Homo sapiens: one gene and its partners. The protein of the gene in region 1 interacts with the protein of each later gene in a biochemical or structural test. Each region holds a gene or a part of one and is shown in the gene's direction. Other genes may lie near its edges. The genes, in order: SCN5A, GRIP2, APBA1, NHERF2, PDZRN4, MAGI3 and DLG3.

Region 1 (3,500 bases):
AGAAGCCCCAGAAGCCCATCCCACGGCCCCTGGTGAGCCAGGCTCCTGGTTTTGTGGGAGTGGGGAGGATCTTCTGGGGTCCCTGGGAAGCTTTCGTGCCACATGGCCAGCCATCAGAGCCGCTTCACAGTCTTTCAGCCCAGCCTGAGGGGCACTATCAGATGTCTGATCATGAAGAGAGGTCCCAGCCTCGTAGAGATAGGGAGGAAGGTATGATAAGGATGTAGCATCCCAGGACACTCCCCACCCACAGGAACCCTCTGTACCTGAGCAAATCTCCTCCTTCCCCTCAAGGATGCAGGCTTTCCCCAGGAAAAGCAGTGCAGCCTTCACAGCCCCACCCCACCCCACTCACAGCCTCATCCTTGGAACCCCAGAACAGTCAGGGAGCCGGATTCCTGAGTCACCTGGTGGGGAGAGCCAAGAGCTCTGGAGAGCGGGGTCCTCTCCAAGACTGACTCCCTTGGCCCAATCAAGCCATTATCCAAAAAATTGTGTGTGTGTGTGTGTGTGTGTGTGTGTGTGTGTTATTTATAATCTTTTCCAAGTGGGAGAACAGAAGAAAAAAAAAAAAAAAAAAAATATATATATATATATATATATATATATATATATATATATATATATATAAAATCTTATTTCTTTCCCCAAATAATCTGGGCTGATTTACAATTAAAGACACATACAAATATGGTTAGTAGAATAAATAAAATAAATTCCATAAAAAAGTGGAGAAAATATATTAATCTAAGCACTGACATAATTACTAAGGTTGAAGTTTAAATTTGCCCTTGAGCCTTCAGACTGTGGGAACTAAAAGGGAAGCACAATGAACAGTGTGCTAAGGATGCTCAGGGCAGGAACAATCTCTCCCTGAAGATCCATCATGGAAGGCCTCATGGAAGATGGAGCTCTGGGGATGGGCCTTGAAGCCCAGGAAGCATTTCAGCAGGACAGCCAGTGGCTTTAGCCTCCAGGACTTTTTCCTCTGCACTCTCTGTGGCAGTGTTGCAGGGGCTTTGGGCTCACTAGAGGGTAGAGTGGGAGGGTGGGTGGTCTGGGATGAGAGGCAGCAACAGGCATTTGCCAGCCTCCCCAAGGGCCCTGCTGAGCACTTTCCATTTGCCTCTCCTTTCAGAACAAGTACCAGGGCTTCATATTCGACATTGTGACCAAGCAGGCCTTTGACGTCACCATCATGTTTCTGATCTGCTTGAATATGGTGACCATGATGGTGGAGACAGATGACCAAAGTCCTGAGAAAATCAACATCTTGGCCAAGATCAACCTGCTCTTTGTGGCCATCTTCACAGGCGAGTGTATTGTCAAGCTGGCTGCCCTGCGCCACTACTACTTCACCAACAGCTGGAATATCTTCGACTTCGTGGTTGTCATCCTCTCCATCGTGGGTGGGTATACAAGTCAGCTGGACGGAGAAGCCCTCCCCAGCCAGGCCTCTCCTCCAGCCCCTGGGTCTCTGCTGAATGCCATGTACAACCCTAGCTTCTTTCATAATTTTTTTCAGTGCATTTCTCACCCCCCTTCTCCCCTCACACATACACGCACACACACCTCTCCAGAGAGAACTTATCTGGAAGGCCCCACTTGGGCCAAGGAGACCAATCTGGCAGAGGACCCAGCACTTGCTCCTGGCCCCACCCTCCAGAGGAACTGGGAACACAGTTCTCTAACTGCTTAGAGAGCTTCAAGGATGAGTCTGGGAATGGGAGTGGGTGCTGTGGAGGCTAATTCTGCCTGCACTTAGGTTGAAGGAGAAGGAAGCTCAGGATGAGATGGGTCCCCAGGGATGGGGGATAGGTGGCCCTCCAGAGTAGAAATTATCCCTGAAGATGGAAAATTCTGGAGCTAACCGCCAAGGTGTATGCCAGACTCCTTCAGACATCACCTGCCTCATGCAATTCACCCAGTCAATTCAGCACCAAAGGAGGGAGATTGTGCAGCTAGGGAGAAGCAGAGACCCAATCCTGACCCATGTCTGTTTGACCTCGGAGCCCAGATCTTTTTTTTATATAACAGCTTTACTGAGACATAATTCACATACCATAAAATTCACGGTTAACTTTAAAGTCACTTTAAAGTATACAATTCAGTGTTTTTTAATATATGCACAGAGCTTTGCAACCATCACCACTATCTAATTTTAGAATATATTCCTTTCCCCAAAGGAAACTCTACCCATTTAATAGTCAATCCCCATTCATTTCCCCTCTCCCTCACCCCTGAAAACCACTTATCTAAAGTTTTGAGGGACCACCAAACTGTTTTTCAATATGGCTGCACCTTTTTACATTCTCGCTGTCAATGTATGAGGATTCCAATTATTTTGCCCTCACCAACACTTGTTATTGCCTGCATTCTTTTTATAGGAGCCCTCCTAGTGAGTATGAAGTGATATCTCACTGAGGTTTTGGTTTGCAAAAGCAAATGACTGATGACTAACGATGCAGGACATCTTTCCATGTGCATGTTGGTCATTTATATATCTTCCTTGGAGAAATCTCTATTCAGATCCTTAGCTCATTTTTAATTGGGTTATTTCTCTTTTTCTTGTTGAGTTGTAAGAGTTCTTTACATATTCTGGATCATAGTCTCTTATCAGATATATGATTTAAAAATATTTTCTCCTAGTCTGTGAGTTTTTTCATTTCCTAGTGGTGTCCATTAAAGCACAAAAGTTTTACATGTTAATGAAGTCCAGTTTACTTATATTTTTTCTTTTGTCACTTGTGCTCGGAGCCCAAACTCTTTAACTCTACCCCCAAGGGGCTCTGCCTTGCGGTGACTGTGACTTTCATCTTTCTGCCATATACAACCTCTGCCTCTGGTAAATGTAAAGGATAATGCAGGGGCTAAGGCAGGCACTGCTGTGGCTATAGTGACGGGAAGATGGAAGCACAAAGTAGGGTCAGGAATCTCTGGGGGGTCTCAAGCAGGATGAGGGTGAGAGCGTGCCTTATGGGACTGGAGAGGAGTTTTAGAGAATGCAGGATGTCAGCAGCAGGAATGGAACCATTGAGGGACAGTCTCAGAGGCTTTGGAAGGTTCAGCATGTACTTTGGGATCTCTCCTGGCCCGCTGTTTGGGCGGTACCAGAGAGGAGGAGTGGTTAAGAGATCAACTTGGAGCCCGAACGTCTGAGTCAAATCCCAGCTTCTCACTCACTAGGTGGCAACTTGGGTAAGTTACCTCACCTCTGTTTCCTCTTCTGGAAGATAAGGATGATGGCATCTGCTCACTTCCTAGGACAATGGGAAGGACTAAATGAAATGATGGCTATAAAGTGCTCGGCCCATTGCCCCAGTGATCGTAAACACTGGACCCATGTCAGTCAGTGACATTATTATATAAGGAGTCTGGAAAGGGCACTTGGGCCATATAAGACAAGTTTATTTCACTCTTTATTCCATGATTTATATCCATGCCCCTTAAAACTCCAAACCCAGGTAGTCACAGGAGACCCAGGGGCAGTGACGCCCTCA
Region 2 (3,500 bases), about 24 Mb from region 1:
AGGGCTAGAATGAGGGAGGGAACAGTCCTGTGCTCTCTGCTACTCAGAGCTTAGATCCTGGGCTCTTCTCAGTGACTCTCAGCAGATCCAGAGGAGGCAGCTGGGAAGTTAGAGAGGGCCTGGAGTTTCTCCTTTGAAGAGTCAGGGTCTCCCAGCTATGAGCAGGGAGCTGGGTGCTGGGCATTTCCAAGAGCAGAGGAAGTGGGTGGTCTGGGGGTCCAGAGGGCACAGTTGGGGCCAGGGGCAGGGTGGGGGGTGGCCACAGAGGGGCAGCTTTCAGCTCAGGGCAGGAAAGCACGTCCAGCAGCCCAAACCTTGGGCCTTGAGTGAAAGTCCCATCTTTGCTCCCAGCAGCTGGACAAGTGCTTTTCCCTCTCTGAGTCCCAGTCATCTCATCTGTAAAAAGGAGGGAGGACTTCTAATGCACAGACATGGGGGAGGCTGACGGAGATAAAGGACAAGGCACAGCCCAGGCCTATAAATCCTAGCCCTAAGGGCAGAGCTGGAGGGTGAGGAAGGAGTCTGTCCACCCCACCCTTTGCAAACCCCATCTTCTGGAAGAGAACGGAATCCCCCACATCTGATTGGGAGGACAGTTCTTGGGGAGAGTCCATCTCTATGGTCTCTGCCAGCTTCTGAAAAAGCCACACTGAATGAACCACAGTCCAGGGACTGGTCTGGGTGACATTAGGGCTTGAAACAGCGTCATTCATTCTCGTACCATTTATCGAGCATCTGCCACGTGCCAGGTTCGGTGCCGCGGCCTGCACGCCTCATTACTTCCTCATGACACCTCTCTGAGCTTAGTCTTACTGTCCTCCCACTTTACAGGGAAAGCTGAGGTAGCGTTGCAAGGCTACACATCTGCGTACAACCCCTTGGCTCTCATTAACTGAGCTTCTACTAAGTGCCAGGCACTGCTCTAAGCATGTTATATTATTAACTCATTCTAACCCTCCCCATTACCCGAGGAGGTGGCCACTCTCTTGGTCCCATTTTACAGATAATAGCACTGAGGCACAGATAGGCGAAGTGACTCCTCCAGGTCCCGCAGTTGGTCAGGGACAGAGCTGGGATTTGACCCAGGCAACTGGCTCCAGAGTGGGCCAAGCCCTGGGGAGGGGGGCTGTGGAGATGTGGCTCAAGGAGACAGAATCAACGGGCTGAGACAGTTGAGTCCTCACCTGTCCATCCGCGCAAGAGGAGAGCTGGCCTGGGGCGGTCTGGGAAGAGGTGTTGTATGGTGGCCAGTTTGGAGGATCAGATGGAGGAAGCAGGGTCTCCTAGGGGGTCGGGGCAGTGGGGGTTCCCTGGGAACTTGGAACAGGAGTGCAAAGAATTCACTGTGGATAAGGCTGGGAAGGGTTGCAGCCTGGGAAGGGGGAGCAGCCTCAGCCCGTGGTGCACTTCAGCCTTGGCCAACCCAGCAGGAAGCCCTGGAGCAAAGGCTGTCCTGGAGAGTCGTGGGGCAGAAATAGCCAGGCCCTAGTGCCCCGGTGCTCAGCCACTGGCCGAGGCTGCCTGGGCTGCAGAGCCACTGCATATCCCCAAAGTGCTGCAGCTGGACACCGTCTGCCAGCTGCACTCCTCACCAATTCTTTCTTGGAGAAACTTCATGGCAGCACTCATAGCCATAGACCTCTCCGGCTCCAGGGCAGGATGCCTGTGTTCAAATCCCTGCTCCACAACCTCCCAGCAGTGGGCCTCGGCCTGGCTTCCTTTCTCTCTCCTGTCCCTGCCTCTCAGGCTGCCATGTGGCAGCAGCTGCACTCTGAACACAGTGCCCGGCACATTGTAGGCGTCCGGGACATGTGAGCAGAATACTAAATGCCTTGCCTGGCTCAGGGGAAGCACGAGGATCTTCTGGTTCTTGCTTTCCTGGCTTCATAGTGCCCTCAGCCACTAACGCCTGCACCTCTCTTTCCTCTTTCTCCGCTGGCTACAGTGAAAGTGCAGAGGAGTGAGCAGCTGCACCGCTGGGACCCCTGCGTGCCCTCCTGCCACAGCCCCCGGCCCGGCCACTGCAGGATGCCCACCTGGGCCACACCTGCTGGCCAGGACCAAAGCCGATGTAATGTGCCTGCCCTGCTGTAGCTCAGCCAGTCTTGTAGCCTTTCCTAGGGAGGGGGCGATGCCTGTTGTCTAAGGGAAGGAAACTCAGACTCAGAGATTAGTGAGCTGGGTGTGGTGGTGCACGCCTGTGGTCCCAGCCACTCGGGAGGCTGAGGCGGGAGGATCGCTTCAGCCTGGGAGGTTGAGGCTGCAGTGAGTCAAGATCACACCGCCGCACTTCAGCCTGGGTGACAGAGCGAGACCTCAACTAAAAAAAAAAAAAAAAAAAAAAAAAAGAGAGAGAGATTAGGTGGCCTGCCTCATTGTCATCTAGCATGCCAGTGGCAAGATTGGCCCCGTCCCTAATAGCTGAGTTTCACAGGGTCTATGGAAACCCTGCAGTCTTTGAGACCCAGAGAGGAAAGGGACTTGCCTGAGGTCACACAATGAGTAACTGATGTGAAGGGGGAAGGCATCCCCATCTCTCCCTGTGGTTGGGTGGCTTCCCAGCACCCACTGTGTGGTGGGGTGGAGAGCCTCGGCTGGGGTTCACGGGGCTGTGCTCTCATCTCCCCAGCCTTGTCTTCAACTCCCTTTTCCTCGCCGACCTTGAACCACGCCTTTTCCTGCAACAACCCCAGCACCCTTCCCCGTGGATCCCAGCCCATGAGTCCTCGAACTACAATGGGGCGGAGGAGGCAGCGAAGAAGGGAACACAAGAGCTCGTGTAAGCTGTGGTCTCTTCCCTCCTCCTTGGGCTGCTTGTATGTCTGAGAGTGAGGCTTGCCAAAGGGTGTATGTCAGGGCGAGGGGAGGTATTTTGGGCAGAGCTCCAGGTGTATGCGTGGGAATGTTAAATAACATGAGTGGAACACCAGGCTGTCATGGATGGTTGGGCAGGTTGTGCACTGCTCAAGAGGACCACTGAGAGGTGCCAGTTACTTTGTACACTTTTATTCTTGTATTTTTATTATGAAAAATTCCTAGGATTTGGTGATAACGTCCTTGAGGAAAGGAAGTCTTTTCAGATGTGCATGAAGTTTTCACATTTTTTGCCATTCAGTCCTGATTCATTCATGGATAAAGCCTCAGTGCTGCGTTACTATATCCTTACCACCTCTCTGCCATTTGTTAATTTCCCCTAAGACAAAGACATGGCCTGAGACTCTAGCTGTCCAGAATGTAATAATTTCCAGTCTTACTTCTCTGCTTATTTATTGTTCAAAATTGCCCTTTTGAAATAAAGATATTTACATGTTAAGAAAAGTAAATCAATAGAAGACAAAAGTAGTGAATGATAAGGCAGGAGCCCTGTGGAAGTGGCAAAACACAATAATGCCTAAAATTTTGAAACCCTTCTTGGGAACAGTCTTTCCTTTGTTGATGCAGAAAGGGTTCTCAGCCTCCTGCCACATGAGCTGCAGAGGCCTCCAGGAAGGATAGAAGAT
Region 3 (3,500 bases), on another chromosome or scaffold:
CCCAGCTATTTGGGAGGCTGAGGCAGGAGAATTGCTTGAACCTGGGAGGCAGAGGTTGCAGTGAGCCGAGATCACATCAGAAAACAAAGCGTGATTCTGTCTGGGTAGTGATGAAATACTAGTCAGCTGGAAGTAGTTCTGCTCCTTGGAACTTACATCTCTTCTGTGTCCTGAATCTTCTTTAAATATTGCTCTCTTTTCTTCTTCCTTGTTTCATGTTCCATTCTCAAGTATAAGATCCTTGAGGCTAGAACTTTGTTTTGTTCATCTGGGTATACTCTATAACACAGACTGACTCTCTGCATTAGTAAGGGTTTATCAAATACTTACGGAGAGGAATTGATGAGAAATTTCCAAAGATTTAAGTAACTCAGGTGTAAAGAATGAGGGTAAAGCTCGTTTACCTTGATTTCTGCAGATAGGTAGCTGTTTTTCAAACAGGACACAGAATTGCCATAGGATGCTAAAGCAGTTTATGCATGCAGACCCTGAGATGAGGACTTGAGTTCAGAATAGTTTATCTGAGAGACAACCTCAAGAAGCACAAGTGAGAGAATGGAGAAAATGACACAGGAGAGGGAAGAAAGCCCATTAAGAGGTGAGTTAATGAGCAGGTTACCACGGTGGGCAGCTGAGGCTTGGCTCTGCTGGCATTATATAGACTGCACATTAGGATTGTCCACCAAGCAGTGGAGAAAGTGGGGTCTTTATCCACCATTTCCCTAGGGATATTAAATCTTCAGTACTTTAGGGCTGCTAAGATTAGCCTGAGCAAGCTCCAGAGACACCAAAGAAAGCTCTTGAGCAGAGAAGCAGAGAGGCAGAGCCAGGTGGAAGTGGGAAACTGTCAGTGTATTTGGAGACTGTCGATACAGCTATAGCTGAACTCAGAAGTGGACATGGGACCCCTGTTTAACACAGCACAGAGGTATCATAAAGAATTTTTAACAGATAATAATTGGTTTGATGGCAGTTATTTTAATTTAGGGATTTTAATGTATTGTGACAACTGCCTGCAGTTCTGTTCACTCACAAGCCAACTATTGGCCACCCTCAGTTATCTGAGGTGCAGAGTACTATATATGCTCATGTGTAAGATACGCTCTGTTATAGGGTGGCCCTCAGTTTTCCAACAAGAGCGTTTATAAAAAGACTTTATGTCAACTTGAATATGCATATTCTAGGAATATAGGCAAAGAGTGAAGTATCTACTTATGTTTAATTTATTAGTTTACTTTCATATAATTGAAGTCACATTATATAAAATTATTAATTTAGAAATATGACATCCTTCCATTCTCACATTTTATGAAATCATTTATTCAAATACTTCACATACTTTTTTGACTTTAGAGTCTTTGTCATGATTAGGCCACTTTTGTCATGTTCATTTCTATCTAACTTTTTTGAGATATAGTACTTCTTGAGTTTCTGTATGATGCTACCACCACAAACTTTATTCCAAACCCTGTGTGCTCATTCACTTAATGTAAGAACGTTTGTTTTATCCTTTCTTCCTAAAGGAGTATATTTATGATCTCTGCAACCCAGCACTTCTGTATGTCTTGTGTAAAGACATCCAAGACAAGCAATTGTAAAGCTCCTTCCCAGGAATATTTACTTCAATTGGTGTTAAAATCATGGCCTCCTTTACTCTGTATTCATTCAGTCATTTATCTTCTTTCAATTGCATAGCCTTCAGAAGTATCCCTATCTTGTGTTGATTGAGTTTATTTCCGGCTATCTTCTCCAAATAGTTCTTAAGTAACCTCTGAAACACACAACTCCTTTTCATGAAATCTGCAGTCTTACCAGGTAATATGTTTTTTCATGGTTTCTCTCTTTAAAATCAGTTGCCGTCACATCCAGCATTAGTGAATTACATGGCTTTCAATTTCTGTTATCTTGGAGGTAACAGGGTTTTTGGCATTCAGAAGAAGGTAATTAAGAGAATACCCCACAATATGGGAGACTTTGTAAGCATTTATACATAAGGCAACTTTCTCTTTTCTGAAATACACATTTTGGAGGACAGAATCTCATCTTTTTGTATATGTAAAGTGATCACAGGAGGTTGTCAAGGTATGGTGGCAAAACCAATCCCTACACACTAAGTTTCCTTTTCAGCCTCCTCTTCTGTTCCATGTGGATTAATTAGCATACAATTTGTATGAAAAATACAGCAAATACAGCAATGATTTATTTCCTAATGGAATTAATTGGCCACCATTCCAAATAATGTAATCGTTATGTTTCTGACTATTGATAAATTTTGTATCTCGAGATCAATTCTGCATTTATTAACAGGCACACTTTATTTTAAAGAAGGATAATTGCCAAAGTATGTATAAATTCCTTTTTCTTGTAAATTGTAGCATATTTTAAAAGCAGAGGACGAGCTTAGAGTCATTTAAGGAAATTCCACTTAACAAGAATAATTACCCCCTACATTGGCTATTCAGTGAATTTGGACTTTTATACTGGACTTTACTAAAGTGGGTTGCATTCTGTTGCAGTGGCTTTTACACACTTTTGGCCATGATTCCTGGTGAGAACACAATTTAGATGATAGGCTAGCAACATAGATGAATGTGTGTAAACACATATACACACACACATACATCACTGAAACAAGTTTCACTCAACAATACTTGTCCTTTATTATGTGTAATCCACCCTGATGCTTCCTATCCTATTCTCTTCTGTTCTGTATGTTTGCCAACCCACTGAAGTAATCTCTGCATTGGTGAACCCTAATATGCAGTTTAGAAAACACTGCTGTATTGTATTACATTTATCAGAAGAGTGTTTATTTTCTTATAGTATGAAATAATTTCATGTCAAAAGTTGTTTTTTCGTTTTTTGAATTGTTAGCATATTTGGATATTTGGTGGTATGGACAAATGATGCAGTAATCACAGAGAGAAACTTTATTTTTGAGTAGACATTTTGTTTCCAAAAGAAGAAATTACATTAGTGTGGAAAAGGGAAAGTGGAGTAAGAAGAATAGATTTGTTCTTAGATCTGTGGCTTTCTTGGGTTGTGGGGACCGTGTCAAGTCACTGGGCCACAACCTCCTTGCTGAGCTGGTTCCTCACGATTCTTTCCTGTCCTTCACTCTTCCTGCCCCTCTTCCTAGCTGCTGTCTCTTAGCCTCTAGAGTTCTGGATGTTTAGTTAAATTACTTAATTCTAAATTTTAACCTAATATTATTTCTTCCCAGATGTGAAAATAGTTTCTACGCCCACTTCCCTTCCAAATAACTTGAAAATATAAGAATCATTTTTCCCTGAGCTAGTACCTGGAAGAGTTCTCTCCTAAAGGAGCTAGAATTTGTTCTACAGATGAAATGTTTCCATAGTATTAGGTCATATGAAAGCTTAACCTAATCTTATGTTCAGGTATGATTGTGTTCTTTATGGCAGGCTAGCTATCAAAGTACACATAAATTCCTTTTTTAAAAGCTCAGCAGATTCCCCATCCAGTGACTAAAAACAAGT
Region 4 (3,500 bases), on another chromosome or scaffold:
GCTCCTTTTCTGCCCCAGGGACCATCTTGTTGGCCACTGGGGGCCACTGTTTCTACCCTCAGCCTGTGTTTTAAACTGGGTAGGGTCAGGGCAGCCTGGCCTGTTCCTCTTCTCCAGGATGCTCCAGAGCCACTTGCCCTATCGAGGGGTCACTCTGACAAGCTGCCGCCTCCCCAGCCCCCAGCCTCGTGGCTGAGGAACCCTGGGAAGAGGCATTCCAGGTCTGCGTGTGCGCAGCTCTGTGCCTGTGCTGGGTGTCATCCGTGGCTCTGTCTTTGTCTCTGTTGAAGGCGCCTGCATGCTGGGAAGGCCTGGGAGAGGGCCGGCCTTCTCCACAGGCAGCGCCGTGGTTGGGGAAGCCTAGGAGGCCACTCTGCCAGGCCTGGCGTAGGTGGGGCTGGGAGCATGGGAGTGGAGTTGGGGGTCCAGGAGGCTCCAGGGTGAGCCCACTCCTCCCCCTAGATACAAGGGAGGGCCCTGGGACCCTGTCTGCTGTTCCTCCTGGACTCCTGCTGGGTAGTACTTCCTCCTTCCCCTGCCCTTGCTCCCAGCCAGGAGACCCAGAAAAGTACAGGGGCGGCCTGCTCCACCTCCTGCTAGGTGGCCGACTGGGAGGGGCGGCCTGGCAGGCCTTGGGGACCAGGAGGAACAGCCTGAAGCTGTCTGTCTTATCTTCCTGGAGGCCCTGATGGCATTATCTCCATGTTCTCTCCTACCTTTTTTTTTTTTTTTTTTTCATTTTCAAAGAGAACCCTGGCCGGGTGCGGTGGCTCACGCCTGTAATCCCAACACTTCGGGAGGCTGAGATGGGTGGATCACCTGAGGTCAGGAATTTTGAGACCAGCTTGACTAATGTGGTGAAACCCCCGTCTCTACTAAAAATACAAAAATCAGTTGGGCATGGTGGGGCACGCCTATAGTCCCAGCTACTTGGGAGGCTGAGGCAGGAGAGTCGCTTGAACCCGGCAGGCGGAGGTTTCAGTGAGCCGAGATCCCGCCATAGCACTCCAGCCTAGGCGACAGAGTGAGACTGTCTCAAAAAAAAACAAAAAAAGGAAAAGAAAGAAATCCCTTCAGGGGATATGAGTCCAGGGGTTGGCCAGACCCCACTGTGAGAACCGCGCTTGGGGCAGGGGTGTGGGATCTGGAGTTCTGAGGGTGCAGGGGATATACACATTCACTTTCTCCCTTTCCCAGACGTCACTGCTGAAGCTGGCTGCCCCTAGGAGCTGAGCCCGGGGGGAGCGGCTTGGCAGGGAGACAGCATTCCCTGTGGGGAGCCCAGCCTGGGCGCAGGCCTGCCCGTGGGACCTGTGGGACCCGTTTTGTTCCTGGGGCTTGAGGGCGGGCCACAGTGGTGCTCAGGGCCAAGGTGCCCAGCCCAGGGCTGGTGGGGGGGCTGGCCTTGCAGGGGGGCTGGCTGGTCCTAAGCCCCTGTCTCCAGGCTGAGGGTTGGGGCCTCCCTCTTTCCCAGCCACCTTCCCTCCCCCAGGAGGAAGCTCCCCCTCTGCCTCAGGCGTTTGTCCATTGATTTGGACACAAACGCATGGTTCACCTTCCTGTGGAAAAATCCGGCCCTCGGACTTTATCTGGAGGGTGCAGTGGCCCAGGCACCTTGCCTTGGGTGGGACCTTCCCCCTCTGCTATTTCAGGCTCTGGGGGCTGCAGGAAGCCCTAGGAGGGGCTTCCTCTGGGTGTATTTTTAGAGGAACAAAGGGTGGCCTGAGTGGCAGGTCCCTTTGTGCATGAGTCTGGCTGGGGACAGGGGCTCCAGGAGGTCAGGGGGCACCCAAGGAACAGGGTCTCCCCTTCTCTCTTCTGGCATCAAGACCTGAGGTTTCTTTTTCTTTTTCTTTCTTGGCTCACTACAACCTCCGCTGTCTGGGTTCAAGCGATTCTCTTGCCTCACCCTCCCCAGTAGCTGGGATTACAGGCGCGCACCACCACACCTGACTAATTTTTGTGTTTTTAGTAGAGACGGGGTTTCACCATGTTGCTCAAGCTGGTCTCGAACTCCTGATCTCAGGTGATCTGCCCTCCTCGACCTCCCAAAGTTCTGGGATTACAGGTGTGAGCCACTGTACCCGGCCCCTGAGGTCTGAGGTTTCATTTCTTTCTTTCTTTTTTTTTTTTTTTGAGACGGAGTTTCACTCTGTCGCCCAGGCTGGAGTGCTGTGGTGCGATCTCGGCTCACTGCAAGCTCCGCCTCCTGGGTTCAAGCAATTCTTATGTCTCAGCCTGCTGAGTAGCTGGGATTACAGGCGTGTACCACCACACCTGGCTAATTTTTGTGTTTTTGGTAGAGACAGGGTTTCACCGTGTTGGCCAGGCTGGTCTCAAACTCTTGGGCTCAAGTGATCCGCCTGCCTCAGCCTCCCAAAGTGCTGGGATTACAGGTGTGAGCCCCTGCGCCTGGCTCAGGACCTGAGGTTTCTTCACCTGAGCTCCCAGCATGGGCAGGAAGAGGTGGGCCTCACCTGACCTCCACAGAGCAGGCTCAGATCCTGCCCTTCTCAGCCTGGGTTCAGGGCATGCCTCAGATGGTCAGGGAGCCCAGGAGGGCAAAGCTTACCTTGCGGGGATGGCTCCAGTGGGGGCACTGGTGGCAGAGAGGCAGAGCTCTGGAAGGGATGTGTGTAGTTTGTCTTTGGTGAAGGATGGAGAGGGCCCAACTTTGGGTGCCCCCTGGGAGCTAAGGGTGGCTCTCAGTGTCCTCTGTCCTGGCTGGGGATAGGGGAGGTGGGCAGGGGAGGACACTGATGTGGTTGGCCCCTCCTTTTGGGGGCCGTGAAGGCCTAGTTAGTGATGACTCAGCCCTGGGCCACACCAGGCTGGGGGTGGCCGCAGCTGCAGTGCAGCTGATCCTAGTAGTGACGACAGGGGACAGCCCCCAAACAGAGACGGGGTGGCCAGCGGTGCCAGGCCCTGGAGGTGGTGGCAGACCCTGAGCCCTCTGCCCCCTGCCCCTAGCCCATGTCTCCACCCCCATCTGGAGGGCCTTGGGGGCTAAGAGCAGGTGTGAGGGGTGACAGTTCTGCGGGAGGCGGCTGTGTGGTTGGGGCGCGGTGCCTGCGGGGGCTTCCGGGCTTCCCTGGCTCTTGCTCCTCTGGAGCCTCAACAGGACCGTCCTGTGTTCTGGGGCCGGGACTCCTCCCTGTCCCCTCAGCCCTGGGTCCTGGGGCAGGGCAGGGCCTTCCAGCAGCTTCCTTCCTTCCTTTCTTGGGACGGAAGCCTAGCTGGGTGGGGGGCGCCAGGCTGGAGCCTTCGCAGGGGAGCGGGCTCAGTCATCACCCTGCTCCCCAGAGTGACTCAGCCCCCACGTCCCCACCCATCCCCGGGGAGCCAGGGCCGCAGAGGGAGGTAGATAAGTGGGGTGGCAGCCTGGGTCGGCCAGAGAGTTCAGGCCACCCCGGCCGGACGCCTGCCACTTGCTGTCACTGTGCCGCTGTCATGGCACGCTCCGGGAGTGCCACGCCACCTGCCCGGGCTCCGGGAGCCCC
Region 5 (2,963 bases), on another chromosome or scaffold:
TGGTTTTCAAACAAGATTTTTAATAACAAATGTCTTCCAAAATCATTAATTTTCTTTGTTCTTTCAACATCATTTTCTTAGCCAAAAAAGCAAGAAGAAGAAGAAGGCACAACAGACACTGCAACATCCTCATCCAACAACCATGAGAAGGACAGTGGAGTAGGACGTACAGATGAAAGCTTGCGAAATGATGAGAGCTCAGAGCAGGAGAATGCAGCCGAGGACCCCAATAGCACATCTTTGAAGAGCAAGAGAGACCTGGGGCAGAGCCAAGACACTCTGGGAAGTGTTGAACTTCAGTACAATGAGAGCCTCGTATCTGGTGAATACATTGACTCAGACTGCATTGGCAACCCAGATGAGGACTGTGAAAGATTCAGGCAGCTCTTGGAGCTCAAATGCAAGATTCGAAATCATGGAGAGTATGACCTGTATTACTCAAGCAGCACAATTGAATGCAATCAAGGGGAGCAAGAGGGAGTGGAGCATGAGCTACAGTTGCTTAATGAAGAACTGAGAAACATTGAGCTTGAGTGTCAGAATATCATGCAGGCTCACAGGCTCCAGAAAGTGACAGACCAGTATGGAGACATCTGGACATTGCATGATGGAGGATTCCGGAATTATAACACCAGCATAGATATGCAAAGGGGAAAGCTAGATGACATCATGGAGCATCCAGAAAAGTCTGACAAGGACAGTTCTAGTGCTTACAACACAGCTGAGAGCTGCAGAAGTACTCCGCTCACTGTAGACCGTTCCCCTGACAGTTCCCTTCCAAGGGTGATCAACCTCACCAATAAGAAAAACCTGAGAAGCACAATGGCAGCCACCCAGTCCTCTTCCGGACAGAGCAGTAAAGAGTCGACCTCCACCAAAGCCAAAACCACTGAGCAAGGTTGTAGCGCTGAAAGCAAGGAGAAGGTTTTAGAAGGCAGCAAGCTTCCTGATCAAGAGAAGGCAGTCAGCGAACACATCCCTTACCTCTCTCCTTACCACAGCTCCTCATATAGATATGCAAACATCCCAGCACACGCCCGGCATTATCAAAGCTACATGCAGTTAATTCAACAGAAATCTGCAGTCGAGTATGCTCAGAGTCAGCTCAGCTTGGTGAGCATGTGCAAGGAGTCTCAGAAGTGTTCAGAGCCCAAGATGGAATGGAAGGTGAAAATTAGGAGCGACGGGACACGGTACATCACAAAGAGACCCGTGCGAGACCGAATCCTGAAGGAACGTGCCTTAAAGATCAAGGAAGAGCGGAGTGGCATGACCACAGACGATGACACCATGAGCGAGATGAAAATGGGGCGCTACTGGAGCAAAGAGGAGAGAAAGCAGCACCTGGTTAGGGCCAAAGAGCAGCGCCGTCGCCGTGAGTTCATGATGCGAAGCAGGTTAGAGTGTCTCAAGGAGAGCCCTCAGAGCGGCAGTGAGGGCAAGAAGGAGATCAATATCATTGAACTGAGTCACAAAAAGATGATGAAAAAGAGAAACAAGAAAATTTTGGACAACTGGATGACAATCCAAGAACTGATGACCCATGGGGCCAAGTCTCCAGATGGCACGAGAGTCCATAATGCCTTCTTGTCGGTGACCACTGTATGACCGAATGAATGGAATGCATGCGACTGATTTTAGGAGGATGCTACCAGTTTCGGTAGAGTATGATTGCCTCGTTCAATGTGGCGTTTTTATATATATTTTGTGACTCTTTATAGTTTAAATTTTTTGTAAGCAAAAAATACCTGGTAATTTTTCATTTGTTTTTCATATACTGGTACCTTCTTTTTGGCTGAGATCTTTCTTTTACTTGTGATATATTCATATTACTCGTTTATAAAAAATCAAAAACAAAAGGAAAGAAAACAAAAAAAACTTGCACAAAAATACTGAGGAGCCAATTAATTTCCTACTTCAATGTATCTAATGTAAGTGAAAATCTGGATTTATTTCTCTAGTTTACTTATTTTCTACTTTAATAATAACTCAATGCCAAAATATTTCTATGCTTGTTTCTTGGCATAATACATTTTAAATCAAACCTGTTCGTAATAAATCATGTGCCACATCTTGTCTTACACATAAAAGCCACTGCTTTTAACATCCCATTGTACATTTAACACATAAATGGTGTTAACATCCCATTGTACATTTAACACATAAATGGCCATTGTCTTTGTCTCAGTAAAGTGTAGGTGGACAATCTTCCTGTGATATGTAGTGACATTGGTCATGTAGCTAGATAATTATGGTAATTGTGACAATTAAAGAGAAATAAATTATTGATTATCCTTCAGAAAAATTATCAAGGAGTGTTTTATTTTCCTTGTCCACAGTGGTTGACAGTTATAAAGTAGTTATATGTGTATACTATTTAGAAGACGCCTAATTGTGGATTATAAAATGTGCACATTTTCTATCACTTGTTTCCAATAAAGTTGTATTGAAACATTCCCTATAGATCACTGTGTCACATATGCCTACCAGGATTAAATTCGATAATATATGTATAGCATCTAACAGATGCTAACTCAACATTCAATAGCCATTAGTTCATGTTCCCGTTGCCTGCCACCCACTTTTAAGGTAAAACCAAGAAAAATTTAAAGAATGCCATGGAGAGAGAATATCAGTGAAGTGTCTGAGATTGTTTATAATGCTGCAATGTATGTTAGTCTGCTCTGGCTATCATAACATAATGCCATACTTAAACAACAGGAATTTATTTCTCATAGTTTTTTTTTTTTTAAATGGTGGTCTCACTTTGTTGCCAGGCTAGTCTTGAACTCCTGGATTCAAGCAATCCTCCTACTGAGGCCTTCCAAAGTGCTGAGATTACAGGTGTGAACCACTGTGCTGGGCATCAATTTCTCATAGTTCTGAAGACTGAAAGAGTCAAGGTCAAACACACTAGGGGTTAGGGTTTCAACATATGAATTTTGGAGGAACACAATTCAGTC
Region 6 (3,500 bases), on another chromosome or scaffold:
GGTACCAGCAGCGGTAGCTGCACAGCAGCGGATTTTCGTGAACCGTGAATGCTGCTGTCTGATCGTTCCTCTGGAAGTTTTTTCTCAGAGGAGTACCCGGTCATGTGAGGTGTCAGTCTGCCCCTACTGGGGGGTGCCTCCCAGTTAGGCTGCTCAGGGGTCAGGGGTCAGGGACCCACTTGAGGAGGCAGTCTGCCTGTTCTCAGATCTCCAGCTGCGTGCTAGGAGAACCACTGCTCTCCTCAAAGCTGTCAGACAGGGACATTTAAGTCTGCAGAGGTTACTGCTGTCTTTTTGTTTGTCTGTGCCCCGCCCCCAGAGGTGGAGCCTACAGAGGCAGGCAGGCCTCCTTGAGCTGTGGTGGGCTCCACCCAGTTCGAGCTTCCCGGCTGCTTTGTTTACCTAAGCAAGCCTGGGCAATGGCGGGCGCCCCTCCCCCAGCCTCACTGCCGCCTTGCAGTTTGATCTCAGACTGCTGTGCTAGCAATCAGTGAGACTCCGTGGGCGTAGGACCCTCCGAGCCAGGTGCGGCATATAATCTCCTGGTGCGCCGTTTTTTAAGCCCATCAGAAAAGCGCAGTATTCGGGTGGGAGTGACCCAATTTTCCAGGTGCCGTCTGTCACCCCTTTCTTTGACTAGGAAAGGGAACTCCCTGACCCCTTGCACTTCCCGAGTGAGGCAATGCCTCGCCCTGCTTCAGCTCGCACACGGTGCGCTGCACCCACTATCCTGCACCCACTGTCTGGCACTCCCTAGTGAGATGAACCCGGTACCTCAGATGGAAATGCAGAAATCACCCATCTTCTGCGTCGCTCACGCTGGGAACTGTAGACCGGAGCTGTTCCTATTCGGCCATCTCGGCTCCCACCTGTTTAGTTTTTTTGTTTGTTTGTTCGTTTGTTTGAGACCAAATCTCACTCTTGTCATCCAGGCTGGAGTGCGATGGCAGAATCTCGGCTCATTGCAACCTCCGCCTCCTGCGTTCAAGTGATTCTCCTGCCTCAGCTTCCTAAGTACCTGGGATTACAGGCGCACGCCACCATGCCTGGCTAATTTTTTTTCTTTTTTTGAGATGGAGTTTTACTCTTGTTGCCCAGGCTGGAGTGCAGTGCTGCGACCTCGGCTTACTGCAACCTCTGCCTCCTGGGTTCAAGCAATTCTCCTGCCTCAGCCTCCTGAGTAGCTGGGATTATAGCACATACCACCACACCCAGCTAATTTTTTGTATTTTTAGTGGAGACAGGGTTTCATCATGTTGGCCAGGCTGGTCTTGAACTCCTGACCTCAGGTGATCCACCTGCCTCAGCCTCCCAAAGTGCGGGGATTACAGGCGTGAGCCACCGCGTCTGGCCTAATTTTTTTGTATTTTAGTAGAGATGGGGTTTCGCCATGTTAGCCAGGCTGGTGTCGAATTCCTGACCTCAGGTGTACTGGGATTACAGGCATGAGCCGCTGCGCCTGGCCTGAGCCACCACGCCCAGCCAGTGGCTTCTTAAACTCAAGAAATAAGGTGGTATTTAAAGATAGACTGACCCTGTCAAAAAGTGGACAAAGGATATGAACAGATACTTCTCAAAAAAAGACAATTATGTGGCTAACAAGCATATGAAAAAAAGCTCAACATCGCTGATTATTAAAGAAATGCAAATCAAAATGACAGTGAGATATCATCTTACGCCAGTCAGAATGGTGATTATTAAAAAATCAAGAAACAATAGATGCTGGCAAGGCTGTGGAGAAACAGGAACGCTTTTACACTATTGGTGGGAGTATAAATTAGTTCAATTAATGTGGAAGACAGTGTAGCAATTCCTTAAGGATCTTGAACCAGAAATACCATTTGATCCAGCAATCCCATTACTGGATATATACCCAAAGGAATATAAATCATTCTACTATAAAGACACATGCACACGTATGTTTATTGCAGCACTATTTACAATAGCAAAGACAGGAACCAACCCAAATGCCCATCAATGATAGATTGCATAAGGAAAATGTGGTATATATACACTATGGAATACTATGCAGCCATAAAAAGGAATGAGATCATGTCCTTTGCAGGGACATAGATGAAGCTGGAAGCCATCATCCTCAGTAAACTAACACAGAAACGGAAAACCAAACGCTGCATGTTCTTATAAGTGGGAGTTGAACAATGAGAACACATGGACACAGGGCCGTGAACAACAAACACCAGGGCCAGTCGGGGGTTGGGGGACGAGGAGAGGGAGAGCATTAGGACAAATAACTAATGCATGTGGGGCTTAAAACCTAGATGACGGGTTGATAGGTGTAGCAAACCACCATGGCACACTTATACCTATGTAACAAATCTACATATTCTGCACTTGCATCCTGGAACTTAAAGTAAAATTTAAATATATATATATTTATATATGATATATTTTATATATCATATATATAAATATATATAATATTAAATATATATATGATATATAATATATATACACTATATATGATATATATAATATATATGATATATAATATATATGATATATATAATATATATGATATATTATATATGATATATATAATATATATGAGATATATATTATATATATGATATATAAATATATATGAGATATATATTATATATATGATATATAAATATATATGAGATATATATAAATCTATATATATATCAGGGGTGGAGGAGGATTTCTGGCTATAGGGGCTATAGGAACTTGACAGGATTCTTGCTGAATGCAGGCTGAGGTGATCAGGTAATCACCTGGAGAATGGTGGGGAATGAGGACTTAGATCATATATCAAGAGTGGGTGATTCTGGCTAAACCAACTTAGCAGGATTCCTGCTAAAGCTGGGCTCTGGAGGACATGCCAAGGATGAGGCCTACTGAAAAAAGAGCTCAGAGGAACCTGTCTAGAGTTTGGTTAAGGACAGCGTCTTTTTCAGTGTATGTATATATACATACATACAGATATATAAATAAAATTAATTTATTCAAAAAATATAATACAGTTTGTACAAGTAGTCAGTGGAGTTATTTGCTTCTGTACTAAATACCTACTGCAATGTGCCTAGCTTTGCATGGATACTTAGATATGACTCAGAGGGTATACTAACAATGATAATATAAATTATCAGGGTTTTTTTTTTAATGATTCACTTGAGCTTGAAGTCAAAATTCTTTGCTACTGAAATAAGTAGGATTTTAGACATTTATACATACATTTTAGAGAGGAGTTAGAAAAGGGAGAAGGTCTGTGTTAGAAATCTATCTTTTCAGCAGTTAATAGAGGTTTCCAAAATTCAAATTTAGTTGCTAAATTGTAGTTATTTTTGCCCCTCTAGCAAAAAAATTAACTTATTTGTTGATTTTAATATTTTTAACATGATTATGTTTTTCCAGGCGATGTTATTGTAGACATCAATGGCAACTGTGTCCTCGGTCACACTCATGCAGATGTTGTCCAGATGTTTCAATTGGTACCTGTCAATCAGTATGTAAACCTC
Region 7 (3,500 bases), on another chromosome or scaffold:
TTCTTTCCTGTTGTTAGCCTTGGGAGATGCATTTTGAAATACGATTTGGAAACCATCCAGGTCAATTTGATTCAGATGAAGAGGATGCTGCTGAAGGAAGTATGGCTTGTAGTACATAGGGAGGGACTTGGCAGACCAAGAGGGCTCTGGGGACAAGTACGAGAGGGCCAGGGGCTCAGGATTGGAGCTGTGCCTCCCAGTTGGTAGCCTGGATGTGGCAGGCCTCTGGTGGCCTGACTCAGTTGGCAGCTCAGTGTCTCGCTCCTGGAGCATTTGAGTTTTGTGCTGCATGTGACCTCTCAGTGGTGTGTTCTGAATTGGAGTCTCTTTCTTGTTGGCTTGCAGAGGGAGTGACATCCAACACCAGTGACAGCGAAAGCAGTTCCAGTAAGTGTGTGTCATTCCTTCCATGTCGTGTAGCTCCACTGTGTATCCCAGCCATCCTCATTCCAGTGTTGCACAGCTGCCATTGCTGCTCAGAGGCTGGTGCTTCTTTTAGCCATGTACACTTTGAGATCCTAGAAATGCTGTGGCCAGTTCATTCTCCTTATGGGTTGGGGTTCACCCCATGGATTAAAGGAGAGTATAAGCCCTATAGTGCTGGCCGGGACCTGACTTAAAAGCATCCCTGGCACTGGGAAGGGTAAACTGCCAAAGAGTAAATCCCTGCCATGGGTACTGTGGGCCATAGGTGCTGCCAGGTTTATAGATTTGCTCAGAGACCAAAAGAAAAATGGCTCCTCTAGGACACTGCCCTAAATCTGCCTTTCCAGGTCATTAGGACCTCTTTGCCTTTGGGGCCAGTTAAAGGATGAGGTAATTGCCAAGTTCTCCTTGGGAGATCCTGTGACCAGACCAGAGAAACCGTAATTCAAACCTCATGAACTTTGGGAGCACTGGTTTTTCAGGAGCTATGGTGGCTAGAAGCCTTGTAAAATCTGCCCAGGAATATTAGGCTCAGAAGAAGCCTTTTAGCAAGCATTGTGTGCCTTGATGCAAATATCACTGTTTTCCCTGGGACTGCCATCAGCCACTTTGGGACCTCCAGGCACCCAGCACCGAGTGGCTTGACGACTGTTTTAGGAAAACCTCAACATTGCTAGGCTCGACATGGGGCTCCACCAGGAAGAGACAGCAGGTTCAGCATTGCTCTTAAAGGGCACTGGGGACCTTAGCAGAGCCATGTGCCACTTTTCTGGATGCTGCTTCCAATGCAGGAGGTGGGTTGGTAGACCTTTAAAAGGGCAAAGTTAGGCTGCTTGGGGACCTGGGTGTGTGCCCTGACTCCCCTGCATGTTGATGAAGGGGACTCGGGCAAGCATCTCAACCAGTCAAAGTGTCCCTGTCATTCTTACCAGAGCAAGGGGGCTACTGCACACAGCTGACTTGTTACCTACAAGAAGAGTTCCTCACAAATTGGGGTGGTTTGGGGTGGAGGCTTCATGGCTTCTGGGCCTTGGCCCTTTGCCCAGTGATATTTCACTGAACAAGAGAACTGCTGACTCCTGTCTCAGAGCCAGTGAAGGGTTTCATGTGCTTTCTCACCAGCAGAAAACAGAAAGGATCACAGGTGGTGGCAAGGACCACCTGATAAGGCTGTGTCCTGGCAGGGGAGGGGTACGGGGAGTACTGTACAGAAGGAGGCAGATCATATGGTGCTAACCTATCTCTCTTTTTTGTTGCAGAAGGACAAGAGGATGCTATTTTGTCATATGAGCCAGTGACACGGCAAGAAAGTAAGCCTCCTCTGAGAGCCTTGTCTTCGTGCTGGTCTCCTGGTCGTGGGGCTCAATACAGTGGGTGGCTGTGGCAGCAGAGGGAGGGACCTGGAGGAGGAGGAAGGCTTGACTCATGGCACATCCAGCCCCTGGGCTCCTTCTTCTCTATGCTTCTTCCTAGTGTCATAGGGAAGGGGGTGCATCCAGTGTGCACTTCTCTCTGTGCCTTTGCCTGCTGCCAGGACACCTTCCAAAGGAGGGGGCAAATTTACAAGGAAAGTCTATTTCAGTAGATGTAGCCACTGCTAAAAGAGAGGTCCAGGTTCTTCCCTTCAGTGGCTGCTCTGCAAAAACCTTGCTCAGTTACTGGTGTCAGTGCAGAGATTTTTTCTGACTCTGTTAGAAGGGGAGCAGCTTCCGGTTTCAGACTTGCCTTGAACTTAGATATTCTCAAATTAAAGGCTCTTTGATGTCTTTCTGTTTAAAAGCCAGACAATGTCTGAGGATGCTTTACCCTGTCTGAGTCTCTGCTCCAGAGCCTCTGTGTTCTAGCCAGACTCAGGGGTAGGACAGGCTGTCTGGTGGGGGCCTCTGTTCACTGTCTCGATGCTCTCCCTCTCTAGTTCACTATGCAAGGCCTGTGATCATCCTGGGCCCAATGAAGGACCGAGTCAATGATGACCTGATCTCCGAATTTCCACATAAATTTGGATCCTGTGTGCCACGTAAGAGTCCAGGAAGGCCCAGAGGAGTGAGGCTTGGTGCCCTGGGAATTGTTGCTCTAATGTTTTATGGAAAAGGTCTGGGATCAGATTCTAGGGCTATTTGGGGACAGGGTACATTTGACACGCTGGAAAACAGTAGGTGGCAATATATTCCCCAAAAGCTGATGGGGTTGGAGAGATTAAGCCATCAGGCTTGGCTGCTCACTCTTGAGGGGAAGTTTCAGTGGTGATGGTTGAGAATGATTGGACAAATACGGAGGCCCAGCCAAAGTGGTGTTGATGTGACTCCATTAACAGTTTGTTAGGTTCACTGTCTCCTCTACCAAGTTTGGCACCCTCTGCCATGCTTTAGCTCAGGAAACCCCACCTTTCTAGTCCAGTTTAAGCTAAAGCAAATAGCCCCCTGTGTGAGACCTGGAGATTGGAAGAGAAGTAGGCCAGACAAACCGCTTCCCAACTGCTTGTTTTCTCCCACTTACTTGAAAAAAAAAATGGAGTGGCCCAGTGACCCACCCAGATGAGAATGGACCAGTCAGTATTTTTTGGTTTGGGGCGGATCACTGCCCCTGGGCCACAAAGCATTTCCTTTCTTCCTTCAGATACTACCCGGCCTCGACGTGATAATGAGGTGGATGGACAAGACTACCACTTTGTGGTGTCCCGAGAACAAATGGAGAAAGATATTCAGGACAACAAGTTCATCGAGGCGGGCCAATTTAATGATAACCTCTATGGGACCAGCATCCAGTCAGTGCGGGCAGTTGCAGAGAGGGTAAGTGTACAGGAGATGGCCTCAAAGGGGAGGCCAATGCTTATGCCAAGGTTCCACTTGGATCCTTATCCTTCCAACACAGGAGCTGCCCAACAGTGCTGCTGACCAAAGCCATAGCACATCTGCATACTCCCAGCGCCTTGACGAAGCTATCTGTCTCCTTCATACAACTCACCCCAGAGCATTACCCAACAGGGAATAGGGGGCCCTGGACAGATGTGGCCTTTTCTGGGTAATAGGAGCAAAAAGTAGGGCCTGTCTACTTCAGAGATCGAATTTCTTAGG

What was found.
Region 2: the proteins of SCN5A (region 1) and GRIP2 interact in a test that uses a peptide from one of them, tested with the Homo sapiens proteins (one large-scale study listed by IntAct).
Region 3: the proteins of SCN5A (region 1) and APBA1 interact in a test that uses a peptide from one of them, tested with the Homo sapiens proteins (one large-scale study listed by IntAct).
Region 4: the proteins of SCN5A (region 1) and NHERF2 interact in a test that uses a peptide from one of them, tested with the Homo sapiens proteins (one large-scale study listed by IntAct).
Region 5: the proteins of SCN5A (region 1) and PDZRN4 interact in a test that uses a peptide from one of them, tested with the Homo sapiens proteins (one large-scale study listed by IntAct).
Region 6: the proteins of SCN5A (region 1) and MAGI3 interact in a test that uses a peptide from one of them, tested with the Homo sapiens proteins (one large-scale study listed by IntAct).
Region 7: the proteins of SCN5A (region 1) and DLG3 interact in a test that uses a peptide from one of them, tested with the Homo sapiens proteins (one large-scale study listed by IntAct).

The regions. Positions count from the first base shown.
Region 1 is NC_000003.12:38,552,188-38,555,687, reverse strand, and holds part of SCN5A (sodium channel protein type 5 subunit alpha), read left to right. Parts: coding exon 1-32; intron 33-1,138; coding exon 1,139-1,409; intron 1,410-3,500. UniProt on the Homo sapiens protein: Pore-forming subunit of Nav1.5, a voltage-gated sodium (Nav) channel that directly mediates the depolarizing phase of action potentials in excitable membranes.
Region 2 is NC_000003.12:14,516,343-14,519,842, reverse strand, and holds part of GRIP2 (glutamate receptor-interacting protein 2), read left to right. Parts: intron 1-1,945; coding exon 1,946-2,071; intron 2,072-2,629; coding exon 2,630-2,779; intron 2,780-3,500.
Region 3 is NC_000009.12:69,662,372-69,665,871, reverse strand, and holds part of APBA1 (amyloid-beta A4 precursor protein-binding family A member 1), read left to right. Parts: intron 1-3,500. UniProt on the Homo sapiens protein: Putative function in synaptic vesicle exocytosis by binding to Munc18-1, an essential component of the synaptic vesicle exocytotic machinery. May modulate processing of the amyloid-beta precursor protein (APP) and hence formation of APP-beta.
Region 4 is NC_000016.10:2,029,902-2,033,401, forward strand, and holds part of NHERF2 (Na(+)/H(+) exchange regulatory cofactor NHE-RF2), read left to right. Parts: intron 1-3,392; exon of another isoform or gene 3,393-3,450; coding exon of another isoform or gene 3,451-3,500.
Region 5 is NC_000012.12:41,572,283-41,575,245, forward strand, and holds the end of PDZRN4 (PDZ domain-containing RING finger protein 4), read left to right. Parts: intron 1-81; coding exon 82-1,608; 3' UTR 1,609-2,463; downstream 2,464-2,963.
Region 6 is NC_000001.11:113,638,515-113,642,014, forward strand, and holds part of MAGI3 (membrane-associated guanylate kinase, WW and PDZ domain-containing protein 3), read left to right. Parts: intron 1-3,396; coding exon 3,397-3,500.
Region 7 is NC_000023.11:70,496,835-70,500,334, forward strand, and holds part of DLG3 (disks large homolog 3), read left to right. Parts: intron 1-345; coding exon of another isoform or gene 346-387; intron 388-1,685; coding exon 1,686-1,736; intron 1,737-2,341; coding exon 2,342-2,443; intron 2,444-3,042; coding exon 3,043-3,215; intron 3,216-3,500. UniProt on the Homo sapiens protein: Required for learning most likely through its role in synaptic plasticity following NMDA receptor signaling.